Regions from separate parts of the Homo sapiens genome. Here region 1 is linked to region 2. The links come from fine-mapping of genetic effects on gene expression. Tissue or cell type: monocytes. Region 2 holds a variant in brackets; the other region holds the start of a gene. All regions are shown on one strand. Distances are from middle to middle. Region 1 holds the start of ACTR8 (actin related protein 8). Region 2 overlaps IL17RB (interleukin 17 receptor B).

The links. PIP is the estimated chance that this variant, and not a neighbour inherited with it, causes the effect.
Region 1: ACTR8 starts here. The variant in region 2 is fine-mapped to the expression of ACTR8 in monocytes (TOPMed, PIP 0.91).

What each region holds. Positions count from the first base shown.
Region 1 is chr3:53,878,633-53,886,672 of GRCh38, reverse strand. It overlaps ACTR8 (actin related protein 8), which reads left to right and starts at 4,521. Exons shown (of 13, transcript NM_022899.5): 1 at 4,521-4,694; 2 at 6,564-6,734. The coding sequence starts at 4,572. SELENOK (selenoprotein K) reads left to right here. Exons shown (of 5, transcript NM_021237.5): 4 at 761-847; 5 at 1,112-2,256. The coding sequence ends at 1,115. RefSeq lists silencers at 4,305-4,394, 4,785-4,894 and an enhancer at 4,555-4,634.
Region 2 is chr3:53,848,199-53,856,198 of GRCh38, reverse strand. IL17RB (interleukin 17 receptor B) reads right to left here. Exons shown (of 11, transcript NM_018725.4): 2 at 7,511-7,535; 3 at 6,404-6,544; 4 at 4,073-4,200; 5 at 3,202-3,328; 6 at 858-905. Among named protein-coding and RNA genes, the nearest start is that of IL17RB, 5.6 kb to the right of the region's middle. The variant G/A (reference allele first, on the strand shown) is at 3,314.

The sequences.
Region 1 (8,040 bases), 30 kb before region 2:
CTGACAAAGCTAAAATATACATGAAATATCCCATGGAAAAAGTCTAAATTAGAGGGTGAAAACTGATGGCCACCATTAAAATCTAAAGATTTCATTTTAACATCTGGATTTCTAGTTGCTAATTAAAAACTTAGAAGATCGCCAGGCACGGTGGCTTGAGCCTGTAATCCCAGCACTTTGGGAGGCTGAGGCGGGTGGATCACGAGGTCAAGAGATCGAGACCATCCTGACCAACATGATGAAACCCCGTCTCTACTAAAATACAAAAATTAGCTGGGTGTGGTGGTATGCGCCTGTAGTCCCAGCTACTCAGGAGGCTGAGGCAGGAGAATTGTTTGAACCCAGGAGGTAGAGGTTGCAGTGAGCTGAGATCGTGCCACTGCACTCCAGCCTGGAGACAGAGTGGGACTCCATCTCAAAAAAAAAGCCGTAAAGATCAAGATCAAGTAGCACTGGGCTAGGCTTATGTTTCTACCTGGCAAAAATCAGCTGGAGCTGGGTTTCAGTGGGGCATTACTGGAGGTGCTATTCAGTTCATCACAGTCCTTTCTTGACTCAGTTCCTTGTGTGCATTATGTGTCTGGTCCCTTTAAGTGTTTTAATTTTTGCCTCCTGACCTAAAATGGTAGTTTCTATTTTAAATTGTGTTTTAGGGTCATGTGGGTGCTGAAAAAGAAAAGGGTCTAGTTGAGTGCTTTTAAAAGGAGACAATTCAAGTTGTGTCTATCAAACAGTAGATACTAACTTTTTATTTTATTAGGCCACCAGGAAACCCTCCCCGAAGAATGGGTAGAATCAATCATCTGCGTGGCCCTAGTCCCCCTCCAATGGCTGGTGGATGAGGAAGGTAACTTCAGATCTGAAATTCTTTTGTAGGATTTTGTTTTGAAAACACTTCTGTAGTAATGTTTTCTTTAAGAAGTTGCCCAGCAGCTTATAATTACTCAGACATTATTTGGAAATATATTTGTTATCTTAACCCTTGAAAAATTCACTGGCCTTGTTATCAAAATGTCTTTTGAGAAAGATTTTATAACATGTAATATGTTGAGGTTTTCACACAGATCCAAATTAATAACCAGTAACTAATTATTGTAACATTTTCTTTCAGGTAAATGTCTGCTCTAAGAAGCAGACAACCGGACATGCGCATTCATAGCAGAAGGAAACCATCAAGAAGTGGAAGGCTGACCATGATGAGCAGTAGATGAATGTGTATGTCTAAACAAGGACTGCTCTGTGTCCTCACAGATGAATGAGGTCATGCTGGGAATTCCCTCTGCAGGGAACTGGCCTGACTGACATGCAGTTCCATAAATGCAGATGTTTGTCTCATTACCTTTTTGTATAGTTTATTAAAGTATTAATATAGTTTTAATAAGTAAATATTTTTAGGTTGCAGAATGGACTCCTCATCTTTATATTCACGAAAAAGCAATCTGAAGAAAACAAATAAAAGCCTGTGTATTTAGCACTGTTAGTGTCACCTTTTCAACTTCTGAAACACTGTTCATTGTTAACTTTTTCTCATTTATAAATCACTGTATTTATTTTAGTAGTATGCATAGCATATCTGTGCTCTTGAATTAATTTTTATCTTTAACATATTTGTCTCATCAATCTTTAATACACTGTGTCTAATTTGCTACCAAATGTAATTATCAGGGTATTTATAAAACCATAGCTAACAAAACTGAGCTACAAAATGAAAATTTACTAAATAGTTTTTAAAATCATGGACTTCAGCCTGGCGCGGTGGCTCATGCCTGTAATCCCAGCACTGTGGGAGGCTGAGGCGGGCAGATCGCCTAAGTTCACGAGTTTGAGACCAGCCTGCAGCATGACGAAACCTAAAATAACAAAAATTAGCCAGGCGTGGTAGAGTGCACCTGTAATCCCTGCTACTCAGGAGGCGGAGGCAGGAGAATCGCTTCAACCCGGGAGGCGGAGGTTGCTGTGAGCATGCCACTGCACTCCTGCCTAGGCAACAGAGTGAGACCCTGTCTCAAAAAAATAAATAAAACCATGGGCTTCCATGCTATCTTGACAAATTTGCACTCTATAGCATCACTCAAAATACTGCCTATTGGCTTTAAACTCCATCTGAATACTGATAACTTTCACATTCTTTCACTAGAGTGGAAGCTCTGAGACTAGGAATTTTGTTGTCTTTACCCCAGTCCTTTGAATAGTGACTACATGTAAGATAGTCATGTAGTATTTATTGGAAATAAATATTTATTGGAAAAACGAAAACAGATAATTCCTCTTCTGGTGTTTAACAGGCTTTGAAACCAAGTGTTCAGGTGAAAGCCTTTTTATATTGATTTATCAGCATTTATTCAACCCCGTTTGTCGGGAAATGGGATGTTGTGGCATAAGATACCAATATTCAGGATAAAGAAGCAATTACAATGCAGGTTTCAGGATAAGGATAACAGTTTGCTGGCCACCTCAATTATGTGTCAGATTTTATTTATTTTTTAATTTTTATTTTATTTTTATTTTTTATTTTTATTTTTGAGACAGGGTCTCACTCTTATCCAGGCTGGAGTACAGTGGCTGCTCACTGCAGCCTTGACCTTTTGGGCTAAAGTGATCTCCCACTATGGCCTCCCTAAACGCTGGGATTACACGTGTGAGCCACAATGCCCAGCCTGTAAATTTTTACACATTTTAAATTCTGACAAAGTGAGGGATATGTATAATGTATACATATATACAAAGTGAGGTAAATGTATAATGACATTTGCATTATACAGATACATGCAAGGGTTCAGTAAAGTTTGGCAGCTTCCTAGATTGTATTGCCAGTGAATGGCAGAGGCATTATTAAACCTCCACCTTACCCTATAGCGGGGAGACCATGGCAGAGTCTCAGTAGGTGGTTGATTGTTGTTACTGATGGCTCTTCCTGAGCATGTGAACCATGGTCCTCTTCTGCCTCCTAGCACTGCTGCTGCAGGACTTGTTCCTCGGGTCTTATCCCAGAGTTCTGGCTGCATTTGACATTCAGGTATTCTTCTTTGCACTTCAGATAGAATGTAAAACACAGGTTCTTGAGTACTTTATGCTTAACTCTTGTCTTTGCTACTCAATAGCTTATGATCTTGAGTGAATTATGCCATTTTATCCCACTTCACTCACCTGTAAAACGGGGATTAAATTTTTACCTCCAAGAGTTCTTTATTTAGTATTTAGTCATCACATGCTTATTGGGCACCTACCATGTGCTGAAGATAACTGGCAAAGTCTCACGGAGCTTACATTCTAGTGTGGGAGACAGTGAGCAGGCATGATAATTACAGACTAATGCTTCATGCTTCAAAGGGAATAGGATGATGAGAGAATAACTGCGGAAGGCCTGAGGTGACATTTGAGTTCAGACGTGAGAATGAGACAGCTGAGGGAAGAGCATCCAAGGCAAAATGAACAGCAAGTGCAACAGCCCGATGACGGGAAGGGCTTGGCATGTCTGAGAAAGATAAAACAGGTGTAGCTGGAAATGCCAAGGAATGGGGAGAGTGTTGTGAGGTGAACTTAGAAATGTAGCAATAACTAGATATGGTCTTTAGGTGGTGGTTAGTTTAGATTCTGTTCTTTGAGCAAAGGGAAACCATTAGAGTTTAAAGCATGAGTGACATCTAATTTTTGAGGTAAGTCTTAGTGGAGTGCTGGGTACATAGTAGTATTAACTACGTAATATTTTAAAACAACGTGGGCAACTATATAAGAACAGATCATAGGGGGACAGGACAAGGAGTTCGAGTTAAGAGGCTGTTGTAGTCATCCAGGTGAGATGATAGTGGCTTGGGCTAGGTAGTGGCATGGGAATGGAGAAGTGGATGAATTCAAGATCTATTTTAGAGACTGCAGGATTTACTGATGGATTGGATGTAGAAGCTGTCAACAAGTGAAGAATCAAAATGACATTTACTGAGATGGTGAAAGTGAGAGGGGAGGGAATCAAGAGTTAAATTTTGGACATATTTAAGTTTGCAGTGCCTTGTAGACAATCCAGATGGAGAGACCAAGTAGGCACTGGTTATCAGTACGGATCTCTCTGAGCGGTTCATCCTGGATATATATATTTGGGAATCGTATTCATTGCTAAAGCCAGGAAACTGGATAGTCACCCAAGGAGTGTGCCTGGAAAAGACCTAACCCCAACATCAGAGGCTGGACTGAACATGAAGACATATGAGAAAAACTAAGAGTACATATGGTATCTGGGAAGCCAGGAGAAGAGATGCCTGTGAGGACGAAATAAGATGCGGGTTATCAGCCGACCCCCACTAGGCGCTCGAAAAGCTATGTGTACTATGTTGCTGGCATCTACACAGTCAGGACTAATCACAGCAACACCCACCCAATCAATCCGCATGCACACCCCGCCCCCAGCCCCTGCGCCGGGCAGCCCCACCCCCGCCTTTTCGGAGCCCTCTGGGGCGACTCCGCGGCGGCCATCTTGACTGTGGGCAGCCGGCCGTGCGCCTGCGCGGTGGCCCTTCCATCCCGGCAGTCGTGGCTGCAGCGCTGAGGCGAGAGGTTGGTGGGTGTCTCCGGCCATAATGACCCAGGCTGAGAAGGGTGATACGGAGAACGGAAAGGAGAAGGGCGGCGAGAAGGAGAAGGAGCAGCGCGGCGTGAAGCGGCCCATCGTGCCCGCGCTGGTGCCGGAGTCGCTGCAAGAGGTGCGGCTCTGGCTGGGTTGGAACTCTTTGCCCTTGCTTGGGTCCTCCGCTGCCAGGCAAGGGGCGGGAGGCGGCGGGAGGCTTCGAGTCCCCCTTGCAGGCCCCAGCCCCTGGTGGGGGGAGTGCGGAAGCGGTCGTTCTTTTCCGGGTGGTGGCGCGCCGGGACGCCGAGGGCTGGGAGGTGCGGAGCGCCAGGAGCCAGGCGGAGCCCCCGCAGGGACACCGCTCCGATCTCCCGCACGCCCCACCGTCTGGTTGTGTGCGCTCCTGCCCGGGCTCTGGCCTCAGCTTCCCCGACCATAAAACGACCACGGTGATAACCAGCCGCCTCGCAAGTTGCCGTGAGGGTTAAATGGTGGCAGATAGAGTTTAGGACCAGGCTGGCTCACTGGGAGCGTCAGCCTGTGCTTGTTAAGGGATAGTTTGGGGTCCAGGCTTTTTCCTTTGTTAAGGAAATCTCAGATAATGGAAGTCATTTCAAGCTTAAAAGCAAGGAAATGGTGGACATTTGTCTAAATATATATTAAGAGCTTGTGTATCAAAAACAACACTATTAGACCAAACTAAACTAACCAGAAAAAATTATTTGCAGTAGCGTGCCTGGCAGAGGACCTTAGATGTATACACATACACAAAACCTTACTGATCAGTAACTAAAACAGCATTCACGTAGGAAAACGGGCACAGGCAGTGTACAATTCACAGAAGAAATGAGGCATAAACTGCTCAGAAATTCATGTAGGACATCTCTGATCCAGCTTCCTTACCGGTAGATGGGTTAAGGATAATACCTAACTAGTAGGGCAGCTACTAGTTAGTTATCACTAGTATGACAGTGCCTGGCACACCGTAAGCCCAGAGTGGCCATTACTGTTGCACAGGCCTGGTTTCTCCATCTGTCTAGTTGAGAAGGCTGACTGGATGGTCTGTAAGGGCCTTGCCAGATCCTTCCCTCTAGGATTCTCCCACTCTGTGGGGGGTGATTAGGAGGAGAGAGGTCACACTTGGAGATAGGACAACAGGTATCAGAGCATGGCATGGAATGGGCTTGTGCAGAGGGCAGTATTGGGCACTCAAGCAAGTACCTCCTCCATCCCCGACAGTCAGGGAGGGTTTCTTCAAAGGAGGTGAGGTGACATCTGTTTAGAGTCCTGAAGGTGATTAGGAGCTAACCAGAGGGAGGAGGGAATCTCAGGGAAGAAGAACAGTGTGGAAGACACTTGTGCCAACAGAGGATGTGAAGTGTTGGAGGCCCAGCCAGTAGATTAGGATGTCTGGAGTTAAGGAAGGGGACTGAAGATCTTAGCAGGGGCCATATCATGAGGGTCGTGTAAGCCACAGAGTCTGACCTCTTGTGAAGGCAGTGGATCACGTTGAAAGGCTTTACTATAGTAAGAGCCAACATTCCTCGAATGCTTCCTGTGGCCCAGCTCTGAGTTACATGTATAACTCATTTAATTCTCACAGTAACTGTGAGTTAGGAGCTTCATTCAGAGCAAGGAAGTGGCAGTCTGAATTTGCAGACAGATCCGTGAATTCAGAGCCTGGGCCCGGATTCTATAGCAACATTTCTTCAGTCACATAAATGCTCAATAACTGTATGTTAATTTGTAGTGGACAATTTTTGTTTCATTTATTTAAACAAATATTTGTTGAGCTATGTACTATAACTCAGGTCAAGGGAACATAATAAACAATGAGTTTGTGTTTAGGTAGAGAGCGGTAATTGGATACTTCTCAAAGAACTTTATTGAATTATTTTGATACCTTTGAGTCAGCTTCTTAGTTTAGCTTGTTATGTGTATGTTGTTTAACTTTGTTACCTGCATATTATTTACAAAGTCACACATCTATGTTTTATATCTGCAGCAAATCCAGAGCAACTTCATCATTGTCATACATCCAGGTTCAACAACTTTAAGGATTGGTCGAGCCACAGACACTCTTCCTGCCAGCATTCCTCACGTCATTGCCCGAAGACACAAACAACAAGGGCAGCCCCTATACAAGGACAGTTGGCTCCTAAGGGAGGGACTAAATGTAAGTCAAAAACGACCTGGAGAGAAAGCCTAAGGTTGTTTCCCTGGGAGGGCTTAGACACAAGTACACCAGAATCTTAAAGAAACATCTTCATAGCTTTGCTGTGTTTTAAAACATTAATAATGTCACTAATTTTTCATCAGAGCTAGTGACTTTAGATGTAAAGAATTAGTTACAACAAAAGTAAGTCTTTCAGGGTGAATTGAGTGTGGATGAAGGTGATCTATAATGGAAGACACAAAATCATCACTCACAGTAATACATTCAGGTCCTTGTTAACAGGCTTAAACTTATGGATTAAGCCATATTTAAACTGTAAATATCTCTTTCAGATACTTACAGTTTAAGTCAATAAGTCAAACTCTTATTTTCAATCCATTAGCAAATTAGATTGTTACAATAAGCACTTATTATGGTCTTAGATTAACCATAATTTCAAGGCAAAAAAAAAATTTTCTTGCAGTAAGCATCTACTTTATCCTATGTTGCAGATGGTAATTATCAGGAAAATTCTTTGTGATCAATGATAAATCTATATATTACATCATAATCCACATTTTACTTTGAAGTTTTAAGTCAAGGATAGTTTTGGGAATGTAAAGTTTCTTTAATTCTGATAGTAGGCCTTAGGGTTCCATTTTTTAGTGTAACAAGCAGACTCTACGTAAGTCTAGTTGTAAGTTTAAATATAACTTGCTGATATAAGAGTCCGCACTTCATTATTTATCTTTGGATCTTATAATTCTACTTTAGGGAGTACGTTTAAGAAATAAAAATCAAAAGAAAACATTTCTGTAAAGATATTTATGGGCATTTTCTTTATACTATAATAACGAGAACCAGTAAGTTTATGGCTTAACCAAAAAGTTTAAGCCTTGCTGATCAACATATGAAGGAATGTGTCATTGTCAAAACTGTAAACATAAGAATTATATAATTGTATGGAAGAGTCTCTGAAATATTTTTTAAACATGAAGTAGGTATGCTTTGATTAGTGCTGTGAGAAATTTTATGAAAAATCACTTGAAAATTTTGCATATAGTTGTTTTATAGTGAGGGCTGCTTTTGACTTATTTATAATAAAAGATTCCTGGGAATTCTTTTTTTCTTTTCTTGAGACAGGGTCTTGCTCTCTTCTTCAGGCTGGAGTACAGTGGTGCGATCTCGGCTCATTGCACCTTCCACCTCCTGGGCTCAAGCAATCTTTCCACCTTAGTCTCCCAAGTAGCTGGGACCACAGGCCTGTGCCACCACACCCAGCTAATTTCTTGTATTTTTTGTAGAGATGGTGTTTTGCCATGTTGCC
Region 2 (8,000 bases):
GGCCCTGGCTCAGAACTGTCTTTAGGAGTTCAGGTTCAGGACTGACTTCAAGGCCCTCTGACCTCCTCACACCTGCAGTGTTCTCTGTACCCTTGGTGGGAAGCTCAGCGTCCAAATCTGCCTTCTAGCAAGGACAGCATGGACGGCTGTCTGAAAGGGTACCAGGGATGCCTTGTGCAGTGAAGGGTGCCTAAGAGTTCTGGGCTGATCCAAATACCACTAGCCTCATTAGCATTCCAACACTATATTACTCAGAAATTTACACAAACCCTTGGAAACTGGGCACTAGGGACTAATAATCCTAAAGGGGATTACTACAAAATTCAAGGGGTAAAATTCACTAGCCTGTGAAAAGTGATCCTCTTTGAGGACACAAATTGAGAGCGTAATTGTGGGCCAGTCCTTTAGCGAACTCACACTCCCACCTCGAATGTTTGCTAATCCAAACAGAAGGTTCTTAGGATCCCCATGGCCACAGGTGGGTGGTGCTAGCATCTGAGCAGGTGGAAGGGCTCGTAGGACTCCCATCAATCAGGAAGAGCCTTTGATTGGCACTGCTGAGCCATTTGGGCTAAAATGTTGTTAACCAAGTGGATGGGGGTGGTTCTTTGTGACTGTTGCTCCACTATATAAATGTACTGAGGGTCTACCCCTTTCTGGACAGGCTGCTGCACTCAGTGGGCAAAGTACTGGCTGGAGATCAGGAGCCATAGGTGCTTCTGCCACCACCATCGGGGGTGCTTGGATATTCAACTCTCCCCTAGGGCTCAGTTCTTCTGTGCAAAGATGAAGAGAGCTATGCTGCCTCAAGTTACAAGTTTCTTCAAATAATAAAAGCAAATGCCGTATTTACTTACCGGCCTTGACACACTTTTTTTTATATTTCATTATGTGGTCTAGGCAGCCTGGAAATTTGAATGAAAGTTTTTACATTTTAGAAAAAGGTATCTCTGCCCCACCCCCTTTGCCAAGTGCACACACACATACGCATACCACACCTGTAACAAATTGCCAAAACATTCCAGATGTAAGATGGCAAATTCAAATGGGGCTCTAATTTTTTTTTTTTTTTTTTTTTTTTTGAGCCGGAGTCTTGCTCTGTCGCCTAGGCTGGAGTGCAGTGGCGCAATCTCAGCTCACTGCTAGCTCTGCCACCCAGGTTCACGCCATTCTCCTGCCTCAGGCTCCTGAGTAGCTGGGACTACAGGCGCCCGCCACCACGCCCGGCTAATTTTTTGTGGGGCTCTAACATTTTACTGCTAAACAGAGAACATCTGCCCATTACGTGATAACCAGAGTCTAATTTAAATACAGCCTTTATCAAAACAGTATCTTTGATCCCTAAGAGAGGACTCGAAAACCATCCATCATTTGAAAAGGACATTTGGTAATATCTGTAGATGCTGCCCCTTCAAGGACATGAAGCCTAACACTCCCCTATCCTCACCCCAGGGTGGGGTAGAATTAGTGACTTGTTTCCAAAAACGAGAGTTGGGAAAAACAGTAGATTTACATGGAGAAGTCTGGCAGTCCCCACATTAATCTAGTGTTGATGGTGACCCCCAGCCTGGTGTCATGTGGGTGCCATGGACCCCTGATGGGATAAGAAGGGCCCGGCACCTCTGTGGTATGAATTCCCTGTCTAATCATGAGACAAACATCAGACAAACCCACACTGGGGGACATTCTACAGGATGCCTGGTCAGAACTCAAGACTGTCAACGTTCTGAAAAACAAAGACTAAGAAACTGTTACAGACCAGAGGAGAGACACACAGGGACTAAATGCAACTGGAACAGAAAGAGGACATTCATGAAAAAGCAGGTGAAGTCCAAATAAAGTCTGGAGTTTAGTTAACAGACACGTACTAATGTTGGTTTCTTAGTTTTGACAAATGTATCATGGTAATACAAGACGTTAATAGGAGAAGCTGGGTGAGAGGTATATGGAAACTGTACTATCTTTGCAACTTTTCTGTAAATCTAAAATTATTCCAAAATAAGGCTGGGTACGGTGGCTCACTCCTGTAATCCCAGCACTTTGGGAGGCCAAGGTAGGCAGATCACCCGAGGTTAGGAGTTTGAGACTAGCCTAGCCATCATAGTGAAACCCCGTCTCTACTAAAAATACAAAAATTAGCTGGGTGTGGTGGCTCATGACTGTAATCCTAGCTTCTTGGGAGGCTGAGGCAGGAGAATCACTTAAATCCAAGAGGCGGAGGTTGCAGTGAGCTGAGATGGTGCCACTGCACTCCAGCCAGGGCAACAAGAGCAAAACCCCGTCTAAAAAATAAATAAATAAATAAATAATAAAATAAAAGAATTCCAAAATAAAAAAGCTTATTTGAAAACAAAATGAGGTTTGCTCTCATCAAGAAAGTTGGAAACCACGTGTAGTAAATGGTGCAGCACCAAAAACACCCTGGACCACAATCTCCAAGACCAGCAGTGAATTGGAAATTACCGTTTGGCTTTGATGCCTTGCCTGTGACAGATGACAGGATGGTGGTATGGGATGGGTGACTCGGCTCAGATAGACCCTTCACACACACCATCCTGTCTCATCCTCATCACAGCCCTGTGTGTGACATTGCAGCTGTGGTACCAGAGAACTGGTCCTGTGTCACAAAGCTGGGGCAAGGGCCCAGCATCCAACTCAGGACCACCCTGCCTCTCATGGACAGCTTGGGGACAAGCCAACTGGAGTCTGTAGATTCTCAGAGGCCCAGCCATATGCAGCCCACTCTAGAAAGCTGAGATAGGAACGAACAAACATTTTGCATCAGTGATATAAAGAGTGGCTCAGGTGCATTGCTCTAGAAGGACCAAAGTGTGAATGTCAGCTTCACTTTTATGTGTGTATAACCCAGGGAAAGTGACTTAACCTCTCAGTTTCTTCATCTGTAAAATGCAGCTATCCCAACCTTGGGGTTGCTGAGATGCTTAAGTGAGATGATGCATATCAAGTATTCAGCACAGTGCCTGGCATACAGGAACAGACTTTTTCCTACATTTTACCTGACTTTATTCTCTCTGCTCTGTGGGTAAAGTATGGTTACTACTGTGTCCATGCTTTAGATAAGGGAACTGAGATTTAGCAAGGCCAAAAGCCTTATCCAGGGTTCCCTGGGCTCTCTCTGTGCATATCGCAAAGCAGGCATCCCAGCAAGACAAAGAATAATAAACAAATGAGGAAGTTTACCTGGTGAGGTGAAATTCACAGACATGGAAGGGCCATCTTCATTCATATTTGCATTAGGAATATTATGGGCCCCAATGAAATAGACTGTGTTCAGCTCTACAGGGAAGCCGAT[G/A]TAGGAAAATGTCCACTGAAAGGCAAAGCAAGGAACTCTCAATTCCCAAAACACTGCAGTACAGAAACAGTATACCTTAGTGTGTTGCCCTTTTAGTTTGTATTTCATTACTCACTCTGTGAAAACTTAGGTCTCCAACCAATGTCTACTTAGGGAATGGGCACTAAACAATTTACAGAATCAGAGAAGTATAAAGTTTTAAAGCCAGGATATAATTTAAGTCCAATTCTCTTCCATTGGCTGGTAGGGAAAAACTGAGGCCCAGAGATGCTGACTTACAAAAGGCACAAAACAGAGAAGTAGCCGAAAATGGGATTTGAACCAAGGGATCTTGCTCTAAGCTCTGAGTCATAGCTATTTACCAGCCCGTGTGAGCAGCACATCATCCATGCTCCCCAAACAAAGGGCATAGCTTTCAGCAACAATTAGCCAAATACATAAAAGTGTCTATGCCCGGATACAGTGGCTCATACCTGTAATCCCAGCACTTTGGGAAGCTGAGGCAGGCAGATCGCTTGAGCACTGGAATTCAAGACCAGCAACACGGTGAAACCCCCCTCTACAAAAACTACAAAAATTAGCCAGGTCTGGTGGCTCATGCCTGTAGTCCCAGCTGCTTGGGAGGCTGAAGTAGAACGATCGCTTGAGCCCAGAAGATTGAGGTCGCAGTGAGCCATGATCGCACCACTGCACTCCAGCCTGGGTGACAGAACAAGATGCTATCTCAAAAAACAAAACAAAAAACAAAAAAGTGCTTACTTTACCACCAGAGGGTCTGGTCTGAGTCTGGAAGGCCTCTGTGTAATTGCACCTCACACAGCTGTAGGACTGGAAGTTGCTTTTGCCCGTCACACAAATCTTGGTGGCCTTCAACAAGCGGATGCTGGCTGCCGAGATAGGCAAGAGGACATTGGTTTATTTAGCACTTGCTGTGTGGCTGACTTGATGCTAGATGCTTTACTAGCATGCTTTATTTTATGTCTCGGTTCATATTCACAATAGTACTGAAAGGTAGGCACCACTGTCTCCAGTTTACAGATGGGGTTCGTGAGGCTTAGGAAGTTTCAGGGAGCTCTGCTTAAACTTAGAAAACTCATCAGCAAGTAGCAGATACGAATTCAGATTCCAAAGCCCAAGCTCCCTCCTCCTCATAGGTCAGCTTGAATTTCATAGGATGCCTGCAAAGGTGGCTATAGCTCTGCACTATTCTGGGTCTCTTTTAAGAGGAAGAGGCTGGCCTCAGGGAGACCCACAAAGACCCTCCAAGACTGTCATCACCAAACCACACCTGTTCCGATTGCACCTTTATCCATGCTGATTCTTCTCCCTGAAGGTCCTTTCCTCCCATTATCTACCTCTTCAAGTTTCACTCTTTTAAAGCCCAACTCACTCATGCACCACAGCCCATAACCACAGCTGACAAAGAGCTCACTCTGTGCCAGGTAAGGGCCCAAACCCTTATGGCCACATCTCACCTAAAGCAACCTCACCAGAGACCCTTTCCAGCTCCTCTCGCCCTATCCCACTCAGATGAAGCACAGCTCCCTTCTGGGACTCCCCTGACATTGTGCCTGTGTCTGCCTCCCCTACCCCTCTGAATCCTCCTGGGTGGAGACTGTAGGTGACTCCTCTCTCTGTGCCTGGCACTCATGGATTCTTGACCAGGTAGACTTTTTTCCGATCTGAATTTAGCAGATGGAAACCAAAAGGATGGGCATTAGGATCCCAGGAGTAGCTCACTGAAAGAACTCATATGGTGCCTTGCAGCACAATCTTGGGGAAATGCCAAAAGCTTCGTGACGTCATCTGGGAAGTGGAAAAGTAATCTATCTAAGCCAGTGCTTTCCCTAAACTGAAGTGGGGTGGGGAAAATCATCTCTCGCCTTACCTTATCTTCTTCCATGAAGTACATACACAGAAAAGTACACACATAAGTGTACCACTTGATGCATCGGGACACTCATGCAACCAGTATGCAGGTTAAGAAACTCCCTCAGGTGTGCTCCTCATACTTCCTTACAGTTATTCCTACCCCAGCAGGAACCACTACCCTGACTTTTATTTTATTTTATTTTATTTTATTTTGAGACAGTCTCTCTGTCACCCAGGCAGGAGTGCAATGGCACAGTCTCAACTCACTGCAACCTCCACCTCCTGGGTTCAAGTTATTCTCCTGCCTCAGCCTCCCAAGTAGCTGGGATTACAGGCATGTGCCACCATGCCTGGCTAATTTTTTGTATTTTTAGGAGAGATGGAGTTTCACCATGTTGGCCAGGCTGGTCTTGAACTCCTGACCTCAAGTAATCTACCCGCCTTGGCCTCCCAAAGTGCTGGGATTACAGGCATGCGCCACCACGCCTGGTCTTTTGCTTTTTTTTTTTTTTTTGAGACGGAGTTTCACTCTGTTGCCCAGGCTGCTGGAGTGCAGTGGTGCGATCACAGCTCACTGCAAGCTCCGCCTCCTGGGTTCAAGCGATTCTCGTGCCTCAGCCTCCCGAGTAGCTGGGATTACAGGTGTGCAACACCACATCTGGCTAATTTTTGTATTCTTAGTAGAGATGGGGTTTTGCCATGTTGGCCAGGCTGGTCTCGAACTCCTGGCCTCAAGTGATCCACCCACCTCGGCCTCCCAAAGTGCTGGGATTACAGGCGTTAGCCACCGCTCCTGGCTACTATCCTGACTTCTAAACACTAGATTGGTTTTGTTTGCTTGGCACTTTCTGTAAATGGGATCATATGGCATGTATGCCTGCAGGCATGCACACAGATATAAATGTACAAACTCTTTTGAATCTGCCTTATGTTTGTGACATTCATCCATATTGTTGTACGTAGTTACAGATCATTCATTCTTGTTGCTGTGACGGAATTTATCTGGTGATTCCTTTCTACTGTTGGGCATTTGAGTGCTTTCTAATGTTGCCTGTTGTAAGTAGTGCTACTGCGATCACCCTAGTATGTGGCTTTTGGTGCGTGTATGCATGTATTTCTGTTGGTTATGCGTAGAAGGGGAATTAATGGTTCATATAGTCTGCACATTTCTGATTTAGTAGACACTTTGGGCCTTATCTCTGATGGATGCAAACTTACCATCTGCCCGGAGTACCCAGCTTACATTCATCAAAATTGAATAGTCCCCTGTTGCAACACTAGTTGTAACAGGTTCTACTCGGAGGTCCCTCAAGTCTCCGGGGATTAGATCATGTTGTAGCATCCACTCTGGAGATGGCCCTGGGAAAAAGCAAGACTTCCATGACACTGTCTTTCCCAGCCCAGTCTGATGCCATGCCATCTCCTCTCAGTGACTCACACCAAACCTTCCCCCATTCACAATTCCTCACTTCTTTTTTTTTTAATTAAAAAAATGTTTTTTGTAGAGATGGGGTCTCACTCTGTTGCCTAAGATGATCTCAAACTCCTGGCCTCAAATGATCCTCCCACCTCAGCCTCCCAAAGTGCTTGGATTATAGGTATAAGCCACCACGCCTGACCCAATTCCTCAGTTCTTCCTGCTAAGGCCAAATGTTTCTTAGCGCTGGCTGATTTATAGCCCAGATAATTTTGATCTAACAGAAGTACTCTCAACCTCCTGGCTTTCACCTACAGAGCACGTGGGACCACTCCAGGTACCTGTGTATGTACACATGTATATATTTAGTGTATTTGACATGTTTATTAGAGTCAGGCCTGCCTTCCTCAGGCTTTGGCCCTGGATTCCAGCCAGCTGGCCCACACAGCCCCCACTTTCCCACCTCCTAACCTTTGCTGGTGCCATCTCTCCTCCAGCTCACTCTTCCTACCCACATTTTTTGGGCAGAAGCCTACCCATTCTTCAAATGCCACCATCTCAAACACCCGCTCTCCTATGAAACATTTGCTTCTCGGTCCCAACTCTAAGTGACCTTCCTTCCACGGCCTTGATCTCCCTCTGCAGAGTGGCAGGCATCACTTTCCACCTTGTATGGCAAGTCCCATCTTGACTGGCCAAGAGGCTAGCCTGTCTGAAACACGGCCTCATTCCCACAGAGCCCCAGAGTTCTGCTTCGAGCAGACAGAGACTTCATCTGCATCAGCCAATAAAGCAATGGGTCACCCTGTGTCTGGTCTTCGATGACCTATTGCCTATATTAGGCTTCCTAAAAGTCCAACTGTGCTTTCAATGTAAAGCCCCAAATACCCATTCTCTAATGCACCTACCAGTTTCAGAGCCACATTGAACGGTCTGTGGGAGAGAAAAAACCAAGCGTCACGTTGAAGCCGGCAAACCACAAGCTTTCCTTTGCCAAATTAGGCAGAACACCATTTTCCCCTTAAATGCATATACAAGTGACAAACTTTCAAAGAAAAGATGAACTGGTTCTGCTTCACAGCTTAGGGGGGAACTAAGCTGTCCCACTGTAGGCTATGACGGACCATGGATTAGCCATCAGTATACCTGATCCTCAAGCCAGTGCATAACCTCACTTGAAGACCACAGGTGGGTCTCCATCTGTCTCTGGATGTCATCCTTCCCTGCTGCAAGCAGGGGATGACTTGGGACCGATGTGAGGCCCCTTCACACTCTAATGTTTAACTCTAGGTTTTTAGGACGGCCTAGAGTATTTACTGGGCTACCCCAGGTTAAGGAGTAGCTATGCTAAGGAGATAAACAAAAGAAAGCTCTGAATGCAGTCCATGGTACTTTCCT